Regions from separate parts of the Homo sapiens genome. Here region 2 is linked to region 1. The links come from fine-mapping of genetic effects on gene expression. Tissue or cell type: whole blood. Region 1 holds a variant in brackets; the other region holds the start of a gene. All regions are shown on one strand. Distances are from middle to middle.

Region 1 (10,628 bases):
CTCTGGAATGCAGGCAACCCTGGCTATTGTGCTCATGAGCAGAGGAAGTTGGGGTGCCAGTAAGGATACAAGACTGAGAGCACTAAATATCCACATTAAGTGGCCAGGGGAAACCAGTCTTTGGTATGCAGACAGGCCATGGGTGGTGGCTAAGTGCATAGAAAGAGACAGTATTCCTGTCACCCTTGCATTCTTTGAGTAGTTCAATGCATTTCCTCAGAACTCAGATGCATATTGTGTTATGAATTGTGATGGGGCTGTAGTCTGGGTGTACTTTAACAGTGTTGAGAAGGATCTCAGTTGTCTGTCCAGCCATCACTGGGTGCCTTTAGGCTCCATGCCAGGTCAAGGGGAACATTGGCACCCAAAGATACCTAAGGCTGCCCATGAGATACAGAGACTCCACAAAGAAAAGCAAGTTGCAGTGTCACCCAGCATCATCCAAGAACATTCCTAGAGACTCGCAGAGTTCCTTATGATAAAAAAAAGGTTTTGTTGTGGCCAGGTGCAGTGGCTCACGCCTGTAATCCAGCACTTTGGGAGGCCGAGGCGGGCAGATCACAAAGTCAGGAGATCGAGACCATCCTGGCTGACAGGGTGAAACCCCGTGTCTACTAAAAATACAAAAAAATTAGCCGGGTGTGGTGGCGGGTGCCTATAGTCCCAGCTACTCGGGAGGCTGAGGCAGGAGAATGGCGTGAACCTGGAGGCGGAGCTTGCAGTGAGCCGAGATCGCGCCACTGCACTCCAGCCTGGGTGACAGAGCGAGCCTCCGTCTCAAAAGAAAAAAAAAAAGAAAGGTTTTGTTGCTCCAAAAATAGGAAAGTTCAATGTGTGTATCTATCTACCCAGTAATGTTGTTACAAGATGTATAAAGGAGTATACATTACAGATACACAAGAAGAAATAGACAAGTCCACAGTTGCAGTGGGAGATTTTAGAATTTTTATCTCATGTTATTTAAATAGTAGAGAAAAATGAAGATAGGATGTACATTTGCGAGAGATGAGCACACTGCCTAATTTACCTGTCCAGTGTTGTGTCTGCTAAATGAAGGAAATCACAGGGTGCTTATCTGGAGTTGAGAGTGAAAAGATAGACTGGAAGGGGCAAGAAGGTTTTCATGGGGAGACGAACATGTTTTATATCTTGTTTAGGCTTTTGATTATGCAAGTGTATGCGATTGTCAAAATTCATCCACTGAATACCTAAGATCTGTACTTTTAATTGTACATTAATTACATTTCAAGTTTAAAATAACATAATTGGTTTAGATTTCACCAAATTAAACACATTTGTGGCCCTCTTCAGCCTAAGGATCCCCAGTTTGAAACCCATGGTAGTGGGTACAATCTACACCAGGAGTCTAGACATGGGGTTTCTGTAACCCAGTGTGACCTCAGAGTTTCAGCCTTCTCATTCATAGAATAAAGGCTGTAGCGTCCTTGTGGGGGTGTATCTGGTTCATGGATAATGAACTGTTCAGTTTTCAGTGATTTTCATCGTTCAGATTCCATTCTGTCAATCAGCATTTGCACTGTTGTTCTGTGTTTGATTTATTAAAGATTGTGATTAATTTTTATTAAATTTTATTTTAATTGTATAAATTTTATTAAATTAAAATACATTCTGTTGTTGGGTCATACTCGGTTTATATGGAGTGGGTGTTCAATAACACATGTGGGTAGTGACCATGGTGTTGTACTGTGCAGGTTTAGACTAACGCTGGTCATGTGGGAAAGTAAGAGCAGCCACAGATTGGGTGTCAGGGACAAAATTGCCTGTGTTCAAGTCCTGGTTCACAACTTCCAAACTGGATGATTCTGGACCAAATCCAAGTGTTGTCTGATTGTAGGTTTTCTTTTTTTTCTTTTTCTTTTTTTTTTTTTCCTTTTGAGAGAGAGTTTCACTCTGTTGCCAGGCTGGAGTGCCGTGGTGTGATCTCGGCTCACTGCAACCTCTGTCTCTCAGGTTCAAGCGATTCTCCTGCCTCAGCCTCCTCAGTAGCTGGGATTTATAGGCATGCACTACCATGCCCAGCTAATTTTTGTGTTTTCAGTAGAGATGGGGTTTCACCACATTGCCCAGGCTGGTCTTGAACTCCTGACCTCAACTGACACACCTGCCTTGGTTTCCCAAAGTGCTGGGATTACAGGCGTGAGCCACCGCCCCCGGCCTGATTTTTTCTTTATCAAATAGGGGTCATTGGTATCTACTGTAAAGGGTGGTTATGATAATTAAGCGAGTATATAAAGCTGCTAGTGTGACTTCTGACACACACTGTTCCTCAGTAGTGGAAGTTGGTCTTCCTACTATTTGTAGTGTACACCGTTTTCAGTGTCTTTTCCTCTATATGCTCTGCAGAGAGAGTGCTAATGATGTCTGATGACTGATAAGTAATGCTTGTTGATTAATGATTTATACAAACAGGATACCGTTAACCCTGGATAAAGAGAATGGAGGTTACCTCTGTCCGTGTAGATTCCTAAGCTGTCCTGGAGTGATCCTTGGAGTAAAGGAAAGGTGCTTTGAAGCACATTCAGCCATCAGCCCTGTGGGATGGCAGCCACTGATTTGTCCTATGGTAAGTCCTGTTTCTGTTCATTTTCAGATACCCTGCTTTAGGTGTCCCCCCCCACACAGTATGGAGTCCAGTGGCCTGTGCCTGATCATTCACGCTGCAGCTTCATTTCTGAGGTGCTGATGTGGGCTAGGGAATGCTTTGTTCCTTTTTTTTTTTTTTTTTTTGAGACAGAGTCTTGCTCTGTTGCTCAGGCTGGAGTGCAGTGGCATGATCTCAGCTCATTGCCACCTCTGCCCCCCAGGTTCAAGCGATTTTCCTGCCTCAGCCTCCCGAGTAGCTGGGATTACAGGCGTGTGCCACCACACCTGGCTAATTTTTTGTAATTTTAGTAGAGATGGAGTTTCACCATGTTGGCCAGGATGGTCTCGAACTCCTAACCTCAAGTGATCTGCCTGCCTCGACCTCCCAAAGTGCTAGGATTACAGGTGTGAGCCATCACGCCCAGCCAGAATACTTCATCAGCCCCCTGCTGTGTGTGCTTTGGGAAGAGGTGCTGTGTCTTTCCAGGGAAGAGAAGTTTTCCTTATCTGTAAAATAAGACTGTTACCCTTTTCCCAGTGGGCAGCATGGCTGACTATCCTTTTTTTTGCCTTTACGTGAGGCAGTAGTGCCCTGGAATTGATAGCGGTGGTGTGTATGTGTGTGTTTTCTTGAGTGTGCGGGAGTATATAGGAATCTCACAGTAGGATGGAATGACTTTGGGGTACGTGAATGTGGGAATTATCGTCAGCCCTGGGTTCTCATGCCTTCTTTCTTTTCCATGAGGTCTTTACAGGGACCCAGTCTGCCTTCAAGAAAAGACAGAAGTAGAAAGGGTGGTGGCTGACTGTCTGACAAATTGTTATCAGGTATGCAGGAAGTATATCCTTCTCCAAAATATCATACTTGCATCACCAGGTAGACACATTTCCTTCTACACAGAATTATCTTCAGAGCTTCTTAAAGCAAATAAAGCCTCCTTCAAGGACTGAGTCCCTAGTCGAATTCCCGGAAGGAGTGGAGCCTGTCATATTGGTGAGGGTTTGCCTTGAATGTCATCCCAGTATTTCAATATTGATTAATTAGTCTTCCCTCATGGTCCCAACTGCATAGTTTTTATTTTGTTGAGTGTTCTGACACATGGTAAGGGACATGAAAGTATCCTTTGAGATAATCTTTCCATTCATCAGTGTTTATCTAGCATCTGCTCAAGAGTGTGCTGCAGTGGAGGGAAATCAGATGACCTCCCAGTCTGGTTGTGTTACATACAATCATGTGTAAGAAGTGCCATTCAAGCCGTGTCACTGGAGGGGACTGACAGTGAGTGAGTGTGGATAGAGAGGACCTCCTGGGGTGGGCAATGTGAGCCCTCAGACTCTGTAGGTATTGCATTTTGCAGTGAACACTGGTAGACATGTTTTGTGGCTCAAGCCAGCATGTGTGTGATGGTTTAGGATTCAGTGACTTTTGATGATCTGGCTGTGGACTTCACCCCAGAAGAATGGACTTTACTGGACCCAACTCAGAGAAACCTCTACAGAGATGTGATGCTGGAGAACTACAAGAATTTGGCCACAGTAGGTAAGACTGGCCTCATCCCTTGTAGCCTACTATGGAACAGATTATGTTATGTACTTACTGTATTGCACATCAGAGATAGCAACTCTGAACACAATGGGAAATAACAGACATAGTCCCTGCCCTAATAGGGTTTCATCTACTTGGTGATTCTCAAAATGTGGTGTCAGATGAAGAGCATCACCAGCACTGTTGGAGATGTATGTTCTCAGTCTCCACCTTTGACATACTCAGTGAGAAACTGCAACAGGGCCCCTGTCATCTGTGTTTTAACAAGCTCTCATGAATCTGATGTGCTATAATGTTGAAGAATGAGATGTATAGTTGTTTCCCATGAGAATGAAGATCTCTTTGTTTCACTTAACTTCCTATTTGGATAAAAGTCTTAGTGCTTTGTAAGTGTGTACATCAGCCTGGATTTGGGCTTCAGGGATCAGAGATCACCAATCTTTTGGGGGCACAGACAGACGATATTTGCATTTTTAGCCCTTTTAAAATAATTTCACTGCTTCCATTGGAACTATATCTCCTGAGTTGTGGAAAGATTTATCATCTCTTGCATGAGCCTCTTCTGGTAATGTATCTTTCTTTGTGCACAGGATATCAGCTCTTCAAACCCAGTCTGATCTCTTGGCTGGAACAAGAAGAGTCTAGGACAGTGCAGAGAGGTGATTTCCAAGGTGAGTGTTCACAAAGGACCGCCCTGGTCAATAAGTTCAGTATGTTTATAAGTATAATGAGGAAACTTTTTTTTTTTTTTGAGATGGAGTCTCACTCTGTCACCCAGGCTGGAGTGCCGTGGCACAGTCTCAGCTCACTGCAACCTCCGCCTCGCAGGTGCAAGCGATTCTCCTGCCTCAGCCTTCTGATCTCCTGCCTCAGCCCCCTGAGTAGCTGGGATTACAGGCTCACGCCACCATGCCTGGCTAATTTTTGTATTTTTAGTAGAGGCGGGGTTTGACCGTGTTGGTCAGTGTGGTCTCAAACTCCTGATCTCATGATCTGCCCACCTCGGCCTCCCAAAGTGCTGGGATTACAGGCGTGAGCCACCACGCTTAGCCATAATGAGGAAACTTTTTAAGATGTGCTTCATCTCACAGTGTTGAGGCCATTATTTTTTTTATTTTTATTTTTTTCTGAGACACAGTTTCACTGTCACCCAGGCTGTAGTGCAGTGGTGCGATCTCGGCTTACTGCAACTTCAGCCTCCCGGGTTCAGGTAATTCTCCTGAGTACTCGTCCTCCCGAGTAGCCGGGACTACAGGTGTGTGCCACGCCTGGTTAATTTTTTGTATTATTAGTGGAGAGAGGGTTTCACCACATTGGCCACGCTGGTCCCAAACTCCTGACTTCAAGTGATCCACCTGCCTTGGCCTCCCAAAGTGCTGGGATTACAGGCATGAGCCACCATGCCCAGGTAGGCCATTTCTTTCTCAGAAGTTAAGAAATCTTCAACTTCTCATACTTTTACGCTTTGTCTACTCATTCTTTTCTGTGATAGGACCCGTTGGTTTCTTCTTTAAAAGTTCCTGTTTTGGGCCAGGTGTGGTGGCTCACGCCTATAATCTCAGCACTTTGGGAGGCTGAGGCGGGCAGATCACATGAGGTCATGAGTTTGAGACCAGCCTGGCCAACATGGTGAAACCCCATCGCTACAAAAATACAACTATTAGCTGGGCGTGGTGGCGCACTCCTGTAGTCCCAGCTACTAGGGAGGCTGAGGCAGGAGAATCGCTTGAACCCAGGGGCCGAAGGTTGCAATGAGCCAAGATCGTGCCGCTGAACTCCAGCTGGGGTGAGAGAGCAAGACTCTGTCTCAAAAAAAAAAAAAAAAAAAAAAAAAAGGCCTGGCACGGTGGCTCACGTCTGTAATCCCAGAACTTTGGGAGGCCGAGGTGGGAGGATCACCTGATGTCAGGAGTTCGAGACCAGCATGGCCAACATGCTGAAACCCTGTCTCTACTAAAAATGCAAAAATTAGCTGGGCTTGGTGGTAGGTGCCTGTAATCCCAGCTACTCGGGAGGCTGAGGCAGGAGAATCGCTTGAACTTGGGAGGCGGAAGTTGCAGTGAGCCGAGATTGTTCTATTGCACTCCAGCCTGAGTGACAAGAGTGAAAGTCTTTCTCAAAAAAAAAAAAAAACAAAAAACAAAAACAAGCTCCTTGTTTTGATGTGTGCTTTTTGTTCTATTCCTCAACTTTCCTTCCATGGTAATATTCTTTGTGTTCACCATCAGTTTATAATTTTCATAGAATCAGTTTGTAGTAAACTATGTAAAATTTTGACGCTATATCCTTATTATTGCCAAATTTTTGATATACAATCTTCAAATCTGTCTTTGTGTTTGTTTTTTGTTACCGTGTTTAATTTGAAAACAAATACAGGGGCCGGGTGTGGTGGCTAATGCCTGTAATCCCAGCACTTTGAGGGGCTGAGGCGTGTGGATCACGAGGTCAGGAGTTTGAGACTAGCTTGGCCAACATGGTGAAATCTCGTCTCTACTAAAAATACAAAAATTAGCTGGGCGTTGTGGCATGTGCCTGTAGTCCCAGCTACTCAGGAGGCTGAGGCAGGAGAATCACTTGAACCTGAGAGGCAGAGGTTGCAGTGAGCTGAGACCACGCCATTGCACTCCAGCCTGGGCAACAGAGTGAGACACCGTCTCAAGAAAAAAAGAAAACAAGTACAAATGATCCCTCTCATTTTCAGCTCCATCTGTCTACCCTGTATGTCTCCAAACCCTTACATTTCTTTTTCTCTTCAGCTTCAGAATGGAAAGTGCAACTTAAAACCAAAGAGTTAGCCCTTCAGCAGGATGTTTTGGGGGAGCCAACCTCCAGTGGGATTCAAATGGTAAGATTAACAAGGATACGTCTTAGTTTTCACATTTAGAGATGATTGGGGATTCCATTATAGAAAATCAGAATAAAGCTGGGAATGGTGGCTCACACCTGTAATCCCAGCACTTTGGGAGGCTGAAGTGGGAGGATCACTTGAGGCCAGGAGTTCTAGACCAGCCTGGTCAACGTAGCAAGATCTTGGCGCTAAAAACTAAATTTAATTACATTAAAAGAAAAAGAAAATTAGCAGAATGAGAGCTCTTTGAGATAAGTAGCATTCCCAAAAGGGATAATGACTCTGGAGAGAGACTCAGAATACGATGAC[C/T]TGGGGATGCTTGAAATCTAGCTTGACACTTATTGTTGTTTTTTTCTTAGACAGAGTCTTGGTCTGTCACCCAGGCTGGAATGCAGTGGCATGATCTTGGCTCACTGCAACCTCCACCTCCTGGGTTCAAGCGATTCTTGTGCCTCACCCTGCTGAGTAGCTGGGAGTACAGGCACGTGCCACCATGCCCGGCTAGTTTTTGTACTTTTAGTAGAGACAGGGTTTCACCATGTTGGCCAGACTGGTCTTGAACTCTTGACCTGAGGTGATCTGCCCACGTTGGCCTCCCAAAGCACTGGGATTACAGGCGTGAGCCACTGCGCCCAGCCAACACTTAGGTGTTTTAGAGTTCCCCTCAAGTACACATTTGTAACTAGATAGTGAGTTTTTAAGACAATTTCATAAAACTCTACAGACATTTGAGATTAGAGTAGATGGCACAGCCTGGCAGGAGTTTTTTGTCATTCCGCTGGAAAGAAATCAAAAGGGCATTACTTATATGTGTGTAATGAAAATGGTAAACATGATAATAATCATCACAGTGTTCCTCTCTTCAGATGAGTGGAATCTGTTAATCAATCTGAACCGTCCTTTAATCATCATTCATTCCTTTATCAACAGATAGGAAGCCACAACGGAGGGGAGGTCAGTGATGTTAAGCAATGTGGAGATGTCTCCAGTGAACACTCATGCCTTAAGACACATGTGAGAACTCAAAATAGTGAGAACACATTTGAGTGTTATCTGTATGGAGTAGACTTCCTTACTCTGCACAAGAAAACCTCTACTGGAGAGCAACGTTCTGTATTTAGTCAGTGTGGAAAAGCCTTCAGCCTGAACCCAGATGTTGTTTGCCAGAGAACGTGCACAGGAGAGAAAGCTTTTGATTGCAGTGACTCTGGGAAATCCTTCATTAATCATTCACACCTTCAGGGACATTTAAGAACTCACAATGGAGAAAGTCTCCATGAATGGAAGGAATGTGGGAGAGGCTTTATTCACTCCACAGACCTTGCTGTGCGTATACAAACTCACAGGTCAGAAAAACCCTACAAATGTAAGGAATGTGGAAAAGGATTTAGATATTCTGCATACCTTAATATTCACATGGGAACCCACACTGGAGACAATCCCTATGAGTGTAAGGAGTGTGGGAAAGCCTTCACCAGGTCTTGTCAACTTACTCAGCACAGAAAAACTCACACTGGAGAGAAACCTTATAAATGTAAGGATTGTGGGAGAGCCTTCACTGTTTCCTCTTGCTTAAGTCAACATATGAAAATCCATGTGGGTGAGAAGCCTTATGAATGCAAGGAATGTGGGATAGCCTTCACTAGATCTTCTCAACTTACTGAACATTTAAAAACTCACACTGCAAAGGATCCCTTTGAATGTAAGATATGTGGAAAATCCTTTAGAAATTCCTCATGCCTCAGTGATCACTTTCGAATTCACACTGGAATAAAACCCTATAAATGTAAGGATTGTGGGAAAGCCTTCACTCAGAACTCAGACCTTACTAAGCATGCACGAACTCACAGTGGAGAGAGGCCCTATGAATGTAAGGAATGTGGAAAGGCCTTTGCCAGATCCTCTCGCCTTAGTGAACATACAAGAACTCACACTGGAGAGAAGCCTTTTGAATGTGTCAAATGTGGGAAAGCCTTTGCTATTTCTTCAAATCTTAGTGGACATTTGAGAATTCACACTGGAGAGAAGCCCTTTGAGTGCCTGGAATGTGGTAAAGCATTTACGCATTCCTCCAGTCTTAATAATCACATGCGGACCCACAGCGCCAAAAAACCATTCACGTGTATGGAATGTGGCAAAGCTTTTAAGTTTCCCACGTGTGTTAACCTTCACATGCGGATCCACACTGGAGAAAAACCCTACAAATGTAAACAGTGTGGGAAATCCTTCAGTTACTCCAATTCGTTTCAGTTACATGAACGAACTCACACTGGAGAGAAACCCTATGAATGTAAGGAGTGCGGGAAAGCCTTCAGTTCTTCCAGTTCCTTTCGAAATCATGAAAGAAGGCATGCGGATGAGAGACTGTCAGCATAAGGAATGTGGGAAAACCTAAAGGTGTCCCTGTTCTCTCTGAAGACATGAAAACTCACTGGGGAGAAACCCTATGAATGTAAAAATGTGGAAGCAACTTTGTATCTCAGGTCTTAATGAACACATATGAATTCACAGTGGAGAAGACCCTGCATCAGGGAATGTGGAAATGACTTTGCTGAATTCTCAAGCCTTACCAAACACATCAGAAATCTCACTGGAGAGAAACTGTATGAATGTAGAGAATCTGGGAATACCTTTCTGAATCCCACAAACCTTAATGTGTGTATGTGAACTCACATTGGAGAGAAACCCTGCAATTTAAATGGTATGGTCTGGATGATGCCCCACTCCATATTTGTAAGCCCTAAGTCCTAGTTCCTTACACTATAACTGTATTTGGACATAGGGTTTTCAAACAGGTGAGTAACTTCAAATGAGGTTGTTGGGTTCGATCCCTAATCTGACATCACTGGTGTCCCTATAAGGGAAACTGAAGGAAGGATACACATGGAGAAGACTGTGTGGATCCACCAGAAGATGGCCATCTACAAGCCAAGGACAGAGACCTGGAACAGATGCTTTCATTATGGCCTCCAGAGGAAACCAACCCTGTCTCCACCTTGATATTGCACTTCCAGGCTCCAGAACTGTGAGGCAATAAATTTCTCTTGGTTAAATCATTCAGTCTGTTATTTTGTACAGCAACCCTAGGAAACTAATACTGTGAGGAACTTGGGAAAAGCTTTAGATCAAGCTTGTCCAACCCGCAGGCCAGGATGGCTTTGAATGCAGACCAACACAAATTTTTAAGCTTTCTTCAAACATAATAAAATTTTTTTGTGATTATTTTTTCCGTTCATTAGCTATCATTAGTGTTAGTGTAAACACAAAAGCAATCACAGGAGAGACGTTCTATGAATGTAGGACATGTGAAGAAGTCTGTAAGTGCTCATCAGATCTTAATACTCACTTCCAACTCTTGTGGTGATAGGCCCTGTGAAAATCAAAGACCATCAAGAAGAGAAAGTTTCTTTTACTATGAAAGTCATAAATGTGACTTCACCCAACATTTAGTGACTTAGAGTGGACTGAGGCTCCATTATTAGTAATGTGGAGAGATTTCATTAAATGTTTATACCTTACATGAGAAATAAAAATTCACAGTGTAGAGAACACTTCTGCTGTAAGGCACGTGGGAAAGCTTTTACTAATTCCACGAGGCTCATTTTACATATCTAAAATTAGACTGCAAGT
Region 2 (10,679 bases), 19 kb before region 1:
AACAAGTTCAACAAGGTTACAGGTAACAAGATCAACATAGAAAACTCAGTTGTATTTATGTATACTATCACGGCACAAGCCAAAAATGAAATTAAGAAAACAATTCTGGCTGGGCGTGGTGGCTCATGCCTGTAATCCCAGCACTTTGGGAGGCCTGAGGTCAGGAGCTCGAGACCAGCCTGGCCAACATGGTGAAACCCCGTCTCTACTAAAAATACAAAAAAAAAAATTAGCTGGGTGTGGTGGCGCGTGCCGGTAGTCCCAGCTACTCAGGAGGCTGAGGCAGAAGAATCGCTTGAACCCAGGAGGTGGAGGTTGCAGTGAGCTGAGATGGCACCACTGCACTCCAGCCTGGGCAATAAGAGCGAAACTTCATCTCCAAAAAAAAAAAAAAAAAAGAAAAGAAAAGAAAAGAAAAGAAAACAATTCCATTTATTATAGTATTAAAATAATAAACTACTTGGGAATAAATCTGATAAAAGATGTGCGAGACTTCCATACTGAATACCACAAAATGTTGATAAAGATGAAAAGTAATGGAAAGTCACCCCATGTTGATGGATTAGAATACTTATTATTTTTGAGAGGGAGTCTTACTCTGTTGCCCAAGCTGGAATGCACTGGTGCAATCTCGGCTTACTGTAACCTCTGCCTCTGGGTTCAAGCAGTTCTCCTGCCTCAGTCTCCCGAGTAGCTGGGATTACAGGCATGTGCCACCATGCCCAACTAATTTTTGTATTTTTAGTAGATATGGGGTTTCACCATGTTGGCTAGGCTGGTCTCGAACTCCTGACCTCAAGTGATCTGCCCATCTCGGCTTCTCAAAGTGCTGGGATTGTAGTCATGAACCACCACACCTGACCAAGAATACTGAACATTATTTTTAAGATGGCAGTACTCTCCAAGTTGGTCTATAGATTAAACATAATCCCTATCAAAATTCCAGATGGTGACAGAGTCTTTGCTTTACTCAACTATAGTCAAGCTCCTTAAACTTTTCTTAGGCCCATGTGTACACTTTTGTATATTGAGTTTTAGCAAGAACCCTGCTAAGTCAGTACAATAAGAACCTACCACCCTCAGTATCAGATCACCCTTATAGCTGATCAGGTTCCCGATTCTCTACTATCTACCAATTACAGGCCAAAGTGATCAGACATCATGTTAGGTCAGTTTATCCACCATCCTCCATACCCCTGATATTCCTCTTGGCAATTTTCCACTCACTGACCTTTACTCTTTAACTTGACTATAAATTCCCATTTGCTCATGCTATAATTATTCAGAGTTAGCCTACTCTGTCACCTCCACTGCAAAATCCTACTGCAGTGGTCCCTATACCTAACGTGATGGTACTGAATAAAGTCTGCCTTACTATGCTTTAACAAGTTCCACTGATGTTATTTTTTTTTTTAATTTAGCACTGGCTTCATAGCAGAAATTGACAGGCTCATCATAAACTTTATATAGAAATGGAAAGAACACCAAATAGCCAAACAGTCTTGAAAAAGAGGAACACAGTTGAAGGAGTCACACTTTTGGATTTCATAAAGTGCTACAAAATTGTAGTAATCAAAACAATGTGGCACTGGCTTAAGGATAAACATACAAATTAATGGAATAGAATTGAGAGTCCAGAAGTAAGCCCTCACATATATGGTCAACAGATCTACAAGGCTGCCAGGGTAATTCAATGAAGAATGAAAAGAATGTTTTCAACAAATGGTTCTGGGAGAAATTGATACCATACTGCAAAAGAATGCATTTGGGCTTTTACTTTATACCACATACAAAAGTTAACAGATACCACATTGGGGATTAAGCTAAAAAAATTAAAATATTTAAAAACCCCACAAAAGTTAGCTGACAATGGATCAAAGACCTAAACATACATGTAAGACCTACAATAATTCCCAGAAGTATAGGCAGAAAAGTTTCATGATACTGGATTTAGTACTGTTTTCTTAGGTGCAGTATCAAAAACATTGCAAACAAAAAATTATCAACATTAAACTTGTACTTCAGAGGACACTCATCAATATTATATAGTTTAGTATTCTAAAATATTCCATCAAGAAAGAGAAGGAAAACCTATTGAGAGAAAATATTTGTAAATCATATATATGATAAGGACCTCTCTTCAGAATATATAAAGAACTCTTGCAACTCAATGGAATTTTTTTTTTTAAGATAGAGAGTTTCGCTCTTGTTGCCCAGGCTGGATTGCAATGGCACCATCTCAGCTCACCGCAAGCTCCGCCTCCTGGGTTCAAGCGATTCTCCTGCCTTGGCCTCCTGAATAGTTGAAATTACAGGCATGTGCCACCATGCCTGGCTACTTTTTTGTATTTTTAGTAGAGACAGGGTTTCTCCATGTTGGTCAGGGTGGTCTTGAACTCCCAACCTGAGGTGATCTGCCTGCCTTGGCCTCCCAAAGTGCTGGGATTACAGGCGTGAGCCACTGCACCCGGACCTTTTTTTTTTTTTTTTTCGAAACAGAGTCTCACTTTATCACCCAGGCTGGAGTGCGGTGGCATAATCTTGGCTGACTGCAACCTCTTCCTCCCGGGTTCAAGCGATTCTCCTGCCTCAGCCTCCCGAGTAGCTGGGATTACAGGTGTGTGCTATCACGCCTGGCTGATTTTTTATCTTTTACGATGTTGGCCAGGCTGGTCTTGAACTCCTGGCCTCAAGTGATCTGTCTGTCTCAGCCTCCCAAATTGCTGGGATTACAAGCCACCGTGCCCAGCCAGAAAACAAATTTTAAAAGGGGCAAAGGAATTGAACAGAAATTTCTCCAAAGAAGCATACAAATGGCTAACAAAGCACATTAAATGATGCTGAACATCACTAGTGTTAGGGAAATACAAGTCAAAATCATGAGGTATCACCTCACACCACTAACACAGTTAACATGAAAAACACTAAAGTGTTAGCAGGGACGTAGAGAAGTTGGAGCCCTCATACATTTCTGGTGGGAATGTAAAACAGTACAGCCCCTTTCAAAAACAGTGTGGCAGTTCTTCAAATTCTTAGATAGTTACTGTATGGCTCAGCAATTCCATTCCCAGATATATACTCTAGAGAAATAAAAACCAGCTGAGCGTGGTGGCTTATGCCTTTGTGGAGGCCGAGGCGGGCAGGTTGCTTGAGCTTAGGAGTTTGAGACCAGCCTGGGCAAAACCCTGTCTCTACAAAAAAATACAAAAATTAGCTGGGTGTGGTGGCTTATGCCTGTGGTCCTAGTTGCTCAGGAGGCTGAGGTGGGAGGATCGCTTGAGCCTAGGAGGTAGAGGCTGCAGTGAGCTGTGATTTCTCAAAAAATAAAAGCCAGTATGCACAAAAAGATATATGTGAATTTTCATAGCAGCATTAATCACAACACCCCCAAAGTGGAAACAAACCATATGTCCATCAACTGAAGACAAATCATATATGGTATATACATAGAATGGAATATCATTCAGCAATAAAATAGAATGATCTAGGCTATAATACAGATGAACCTTGAAAAACGGGCTAAGTGAAAAAAGTTATTCACAAAAGATTGTATGATTTTTAGGCCGGGCATGGTGGCTCACGCCTATAATCCCAGCACTTTTGGAGGCCGAGGCAGGACTACTTAAGCCCAGGAGTTCGAGATCAGCCTTGCAACATAGTGAGACCCTGTCTATACAAAAATAAAAATAAATTGTATGAGTATATCCATATGAAATGTCTACAAAAGAAAAATCTGTAGTGATAAAGTAGGTTTGTGGTTCCCTGGAGCTTAAAGAGGAGGTAAATGGGTTTTCCCATTCAAAGATTTCTTTTAGTGTGATTAAAATGTTCCAAAATTATGTTTGAACAACACTGCGAATGTACTAAAAAATATTGAATTATATAGCTTTAAGTGGGTGAACTGTGTTGGTTATATGTGAATTGTATCTCAATACAGCTGGTCTAAAAACCAAAAGGGAAAAATCACAATAATAGCCACATCATTGGGAGCGTAAAAATTTAATGTCTATTAAGCATTTAGGGTAGTAAGATTTAAAAAACAGCTACCGCCAGGTGCGGTGGCTCACACCAGCACTTTCAGAGGCTGAGGTGGGCAGATCACCTGAGGTTAGGAGTTTGAGACCACCCTGGCCAACATGGCGAAACCCCATCTCTACTAAAAAAAAAAAAAAAAAAAAATACAAAAATTAGCTGAGCGTGGTGGCGCGTGCCTATAATCCCAGCTACTCAGGAGACTGAGAAAGGAGAATCCCTAGAACTCAGGAGGTGGAGGTTGCAGTGAGCCGAGATCGTACCACTGTATTCCAGCCTGGGTGACAGAGCAAGACTGTCTCAAAAACAAACAAACAAAAAAGCTACCATTATTATTATTATTACCACGGAATATTATTAGTTGATACAAAACCACTGGAATGAAAAGATTATGATCTTGATATTGGCATAAGTAAATGTATTACTGGCATAGAGTCTAGAATCAGATACAGGTATACATAGGAATTTATAGTTTAATAAACATGGAATTTGAAATCAGTAAATCAAGGACAGTTTATCAATATGTGGTACTACAATAATTGGCCGTGTTTCTGGAGGAAAGAGATATTGTATCCACTATCCCACACCACATACTGAAACACATTCCATGAGTATGAAAGATTTCAATGTTTTTAAAGTAATATGCTGCAGAAGAAAATTAGGAAATCTATATGTAATCTAGAGTTTATGAAGACTTCTTAATGCAAGAGAGGAAACTTAAAAAAGAAAATCTTTTTGAGTTGAAAAATTAACTGCAAAATAGTTACCAGTTCAGTAGATTCACAAAATATTTGATAATGTACATGAACAGTTCTTCATGTTAGTAAAACAGTGTTCAAAATAACTTTATTAACTCCATAAAGGCCACCCACTACAAAGCACAGCAAAAACGATTTCTGGAGAAACTAGAATCACTCCTGCAGAAGTGAATGCCTGATATCAGTGCTATTTTACAACGCGGTATTTTACAACGAGGCCCTGGAACTCACTGTAAGATCTCAGAAAACAATATATTAGTCAAAGAAAAAAAAATCAACATTTACAAAAAGTATCAGCATATTGAATACACAAAGGAATCAACTATTAGAATTTAGCATGGCGTCCAGATAAATGAAATAAGGGGAAATATTGGCCTCAAGTTGAATTGGGCCCGGCGCCGTGGTGCACGCCTGTAATCCCAGCCTTTTGGGAGGCTGAGGCGGGATGATTGTTGGAGCCCAGGAGTTTGAGATCAGCCTGGGTAACATACCTCAACTCTGGGGGAAAAAAAATTAGCCGGGCATGGTGGCCTGCGCCTGTAGACCCAGCTACTCGGGAGGCTGAGGCGGGATGATGGCGTGAGCCCATGAGTTTCGCCCCACAGCACGCCAGCCTGGACTACACAGTGAGACCCTGTCTCAAACAAAAACAAAATAAAAAACTAAAACTAGATTGAATGAATGGAGGAGATAGGCCATATCATGGACTGGCAGGATTATCAAAGGAAGCATCATTTTGAGGGTGCTAGGAACGTGGGAGGAGGTGAGAATAAAAGCTTTTTGTGAGCATTGTGCACATCCTGTGGGGGAGCCCCCACCTCTAACTTTGCCAACACCACCGACCCCACCCTAGGTTAGCCCCGTCCGCAGGGCTGGTTCTAACCTCAGCCTTGTGCTCTGGGCCCCTTTTGGCCTCCATCCCTCAAGGTGAGCAGACTCCAAGGCCTCCAAGGCGTCTCCGTAGCCACTGGGGAGTAAACCAGAATCTCTCTGCCTGAGGTTGTTCAGCTCGGCTGAGGTTGCAGTTCCCGAGCGCTCCTCCAGGTTTGAGGCTGGAGGCGGAAGTGACGTCACGGAGCGCTGCTGTGTTTTCCGGCGCTTTCTCCGCGCCGCCAAACCCGTTTTCTTCCTGGTGGCGTTTGGGCTTAATACAGCTTTGGCGAGGTCGGATGACGGGTGGGAGCCAGCGGTGGAAGGGGTGGCGAAAGTACCGGTTTGCCCCAGGCCGCCGAGGGGCCTCCTTAGAGAGACCTTGCCTGCTCCGCTCGCGTCCGCCGGGGCCGCGCGGGTCCTCCTGGCGCCGCCAGGTTCAAAAAGCCACTCGAGTTGTCACTGCGACGGCCCTGGGCCAGGAGCCGTTTCGGGATCTGTCGTAAGGGCGCTTCCTCACGATTTTTGCAAACACGGTGATTGCCGCTTCAAACTCTTCCAAAGCAATTCTTTGTGACTTTTTTTTTTCCAGAAACAACGAGTTTTCGTCGTTCGAATCAGGTTGACTGGTCCTTCATCCCCCCAATCTCCCGTACCTGGCGAGTCCAGCTCGTCGCGGTGAGTACTGGGGTGAAAGTTGGTTTCGGGGGCTTCTTCCTCCTGTTTTATCTGAGAATTTGTTTTTCTCTTTGCGCATCCTGTATTTACTTTTGACACTCTACATTCAGGTAGAAACATAAAGCTATTTTTTAGGTATCTGGGGTGTGGTTATTTCTCTATGTGAATATAAACGTTTGTAGACCAGAAGTCTTTCTACTGAAGAAAAGCAAGAATACTCAGCTATTCTTTTTATCTGAACTTCCTAGGCCTGTACCTCCCCACAGAGCTTCAAAACGGGCTTTTAGGAAGAAGGAATGGAGGCTTTGAAGTAAGTTGAACATTGCAGGCGTGACACTTAAGGTTTAAATGCTTGGTAATACGTGTCCTGTGGATAAAGACATGTCCTTTTAAAACCATAATACTATTACCCCAGAAAATTTAAAATGTTGTTAATATGTACCCTGTGTAAAAAGGTACAGTTCTCCACTTTGTTCCAATATATGGTTTTGATTGTTTTGGGATCTATTACGTATCCAAGTTTCATGTCTTTTAGTCTCTTTAAAACTAGCAGACACTGTTTATCCGTTATATTGTCTTTTTGCGCAGTCACTCGTTCTTTCAGAAAGTTATACATTTTGGTAGTTCTGATTGTATTCTGTGCCGTGTTTAAATGTATCCTTCATTTATTGGTGTATCCTGTAAATGGATGAGTGTCTGAATGGTTAATTAAGGCATAGTAAAAAAATTCAGCCTAGGGCTGTTCTTAGGGAGGTTGTAAACTAGTGGAGGAGGCTGTCATGTAACCAAGCAAATAAGTGTATTACAAATTGATGAAGGTCTGTAAGTAAAGTAGAGGACAGAATTATTTTCTCTATTTTTCTTTGGAATAGGCAATGCTAAGAAAAGAGTGATATGCAAGCTGAGACCAAAAATATGGTATGATTTAGCCATACTGAAGGGGAAGGAAATAAGAGCTGGGCAAAGCATTCTGTGAATTGGCTGACTCCACTTCTATGGTGAGAGAGAGGAGTGCATCAAAGATTACTCCCAGGTTTGACAGAGTCAGTATTCTTTCTTTGGTTGGGGAAACAATGTGGTGGGATAATTTAATCTTAAATGTATGACAGGAAATAGTAAGTGATATCTTTTGGGAGACAGAGTTTCGCTGTTGCCAGGCTCCAGTGCAGTGGCAGGATCTCGGCTCACTGAAACACTGTAACCTCCACCTCTTGGGTTTTCAAGCCATCCTCCTGCCTCAGCCACCCTAGTAGCTGGGATTACAAGTGTGCGCCACCATGCCTGGCTAATTTTTGTATTTTTGTATTTTTTTTTTTTTTAGTAGAGATGGTTTCAGCATGTTGGCCAGTCTGGTCTCAGACTCCTGACCTCAAGTGATCCACCCACCTCGGCCTCCCAAAATGCTGGGATTACAGGTATAAGCCACTGTGCCTGGCCAAAGTAAGTGATATCTGACAAATGATGTAAATCAAGGGAAAATAGGAGAAGCATGAATGTGTTTTAATTACATGAATAAGAAATTAATTCAAGGGATTAATGAGAATCAGTGCTTGATCACTGAAAAATAAGCTCTCCATGAAAATTCACTGATGTTAATTATTAGTCTTAGGAAATATGTATATTCATAAACAGACAAAACTTCTCTCGTTGTTTTTTTCAATTCACTTTTGGGTTCCTTCTCCTACCTAAATTAGTCCTTCGTTTCCCTGAAGGAATGTCCAGAGTAAGCACTCTGCGTGACTCCTTATAGACACTCATACACCTAGGGGGTTGGCTTGATACAATCCATGTAAGTAAATGACCAGAAAACTCACCTGCCAATGTGGGCTGCCAAAAAGCTGTGAAGGGGCCACATGGCCTGGAAATACAACAGATCTTAGAATAATGTCTGTTAATTATAACATCGATGACGGAAAAAAAATCAAATTCCAGTAGGGCCACTCTGTAGATTCTGCACGTTCTTCCCATGTCTGCATGGGTTTTCTCTGGGTACTCTGGTTTCTTCCCACATGCCAAAGATGCACATGTTAGCTTAATTGGTGTGTCTAAATTGTCCCACTATGTGTGTGTGTGCCCTGAGCTGTTAGGATGGGCTCTGGCCATTTTCATTCTGGAACTGGAATAGGTGGATTGGAGAATGAATGAATGAATACAAACTATTGTAAAATAAAAATTCCTAAAACATTTGATAATGATACAACTGTACAACAGTAAATGGTACCACTTAGCAAGCTGGCCCCATTTGTTATTGTTTTTGAGCTTCTTGGTGGTAGGAGGTGGTCCTTAGAGTTTTTGCTTTGGAAGCATTTATTTGTTTTAACCCACCACTGTTAACTGCCATCACATACCAATTCATCAAAAATTGGATAAATAGCCTATTTTTATTAGTCTTTCTTAAATGTATATATATTTCACATTTATTTCAATATTTAATATTAGAAGTGTTTGGGGTCTTTATTTAGAAGTTTAGTGATGTTTTTGTGACCAGAAATATGCTGTAGGAGCTTAACTCGCTTATATTAATTAGCATGTGAAAAAATTCGCTTTGTTGTATGTCATTTCGCTTAAAGTCTCAGTTTCCAAGAACCTGCTGATGACTTTAAGTGAAGACTTAAATTCTATACATTTTCTCTGTTTGGCACTTAGGGGTTCCAGTGAACTAGCCGCATGTAGTGAAATCATTGATGGGGATTCTGATATAAAGTTGCTGAGGATGTGCATATACTGCTTTTTGGAGAGTGTATTGGCAAACCAATTTCAAAAACTGTTGGCAGTACATACTAGGTTTATACACATACATGCCCTACAGCAACAGTAATGTATACACTATGTGTATCAAGATAAAAGTAAGCCAGGTGCAGTGGCTCACGCCTGTAATCCCAACACTTTGGGAGGCCAAGGTGGGTGGATCACTTCAGGTCAGGAGTTGAAGGCCAGCCTGGCCAACATGGTGAAACCCTGACTCTATTAAAAAAAATACAAAAATTAGCCGGGCATGGTGGTGGGTGCCTGTAATCCCAGCCACTTGAGAGACTGAGGCAGGAGAATCACTTGAACCAGGGAGGTGAAGGCTGCAGTGAGCTGAGATTGCGCTACTGCACTCCATCCTGGGCAACCAGAGTGAGACCCTGTCTAAAAACAAAACAAAACAAAACCCAACTGACTTGAGACCTCAATTACATCTGCATTCTCTTCATTTTTGCTTATTCTTCTGTTAGAAACTGGTCAAAGGTCGTGCGTGCGCTCAACAGGAGGGTGTTATCCAGGGGTATGAATGCCAGCAGGTGGGGATCTCTGGGGTCATATTACAGTATTTGGCCACAGTGTGGCTGTAGCCCACTGGATGGTGAAGTTTGCTGGGTTACTCAGGCGGGAGTTAGTCATAGTCCTTAGGGAAGATTGAAGCAGTGTTTCAAGGCAAAGGCCAGCTGCAATGGGTGGATCAGCCTGTAGGGGGAGTCAGGACACCACTGTAGCTATGAGGCTTGGACTGGTTCGTGTCTGCCCTGGAAGTGCTGTGACAAACACACCTCTGGGGCACACTCACACTGATGGTGATGGGCAGCTATGCACAGGAAATTTGGATGCCACTTTGTTTGCAAGGCCTGGGACTTCAGTGTTCACGTTCGGAGGCCTTTGGGAACAAACCTTTGGGGTACAGGTCATGCAGCAGCATGCATCCTGGCATGCGCATTGTCTGTGTCATGAGGGACACAAGCCATCAAGCCAGTCGGCACATGTGCAGAGGGTGCCTCTGCTAGTGGGAGTCCTTTGAGCATGTGGCGTCCATATTAGGAGGGCCACAGGGTGGTGGTGACTGGGCCAGGGTTTTGTGGTATCCTAAGGACTGTGTTATGGGCATATGGCGTGGACAGAGCACCCTCCAATGCCCTCACACCCACACTGCTGACCACCGTGTCGCAATTGTATCCAGCAGGCAACGCTCCCTTTTGCAGTGTCCATCCCATGTCCCCTTTTAGTATGTTCCTCTAATTAGGTCCTGAGGCTTCTGTCTCTGGAGAGTGGCTGTAAATTCTAGCTCTGTCCCGACCAAGAGGAGAGGTGTTCTGGTGTGTTGGGTGGGTTAGGTACAGAAAAGGCAACACAACAAAACACATCAAGTAGCAGAAGCATTTTATTCCTTACAGATCCGCGAGAAGAGGGTTGCCCTTGAGGTCCTGACAGCAACTCAGGAGACAGCCGGGTGCTAACCAGTGGGTGGGGAATGAGACAGAGAGGACCTGTGGGACTGTGCCTTTGTTACGGTCCATGGGCCTTATCCCTCAGGCTTTCCCAGCGTGGTTGTGGATTAGGTAGACCTGAGCAGTGGGGAGAACTGAT

Evidence for each region. PIP is the estimated chance that this variant, and not a neighbour inherited with it, causes the effect.
Region 2: ZNF266 starts here. The variant in region 1 is fine-mapped to the expression of ZNF266 in whole blood (INTERVAL, PIP above 0.99).

What each region holds. Positions count from the first base shown.
Region 1 is chr19:9,412,021-9,422,648 of GRCh38, reverse strand. ZNF266 (zinc finger protein 266) reads left to right here. Exons shown (of 11, transcript NM_001370374.1): 6 at 2,431-2,584; 7 at 3,350-3,432; 8 at 4,018-4,144; 9 at 4,741-4,821; 10 at 6,907-6,995; 11 at 7,929-10,220. The coding sequence starts at 2,560. The coding sequence ends at 9,374. Among named protein-coding and RNA genes, the nearest start is that of ZNF266, 18 kb to the left of the region's middle. The variant C/T (reference allele first, on the strand shown) is at 7,308.
Region 2 is chr19:9,430,767-9,441,445 of GRCh38, reverse strand. ZNF266 (zinc finger protein 266) reads left to right here and starts at 5,873. Exons shown (of 11, transcript NM_001370374.1): 1 at 5,873-6,162; 2 at 6,253-6,338; 3 at 6,587-6,648; 4 at 7,211-7,371; 5 at 7,660-7,778. LOC105372269 (a long non-coding RNA gene) reads right to left here and starts at 5,805. Exons shown (of 3, transcript XR_007067133.1): 1 at 5,674-5,805. RefSeq lists an enhancer at 5,953-6,082.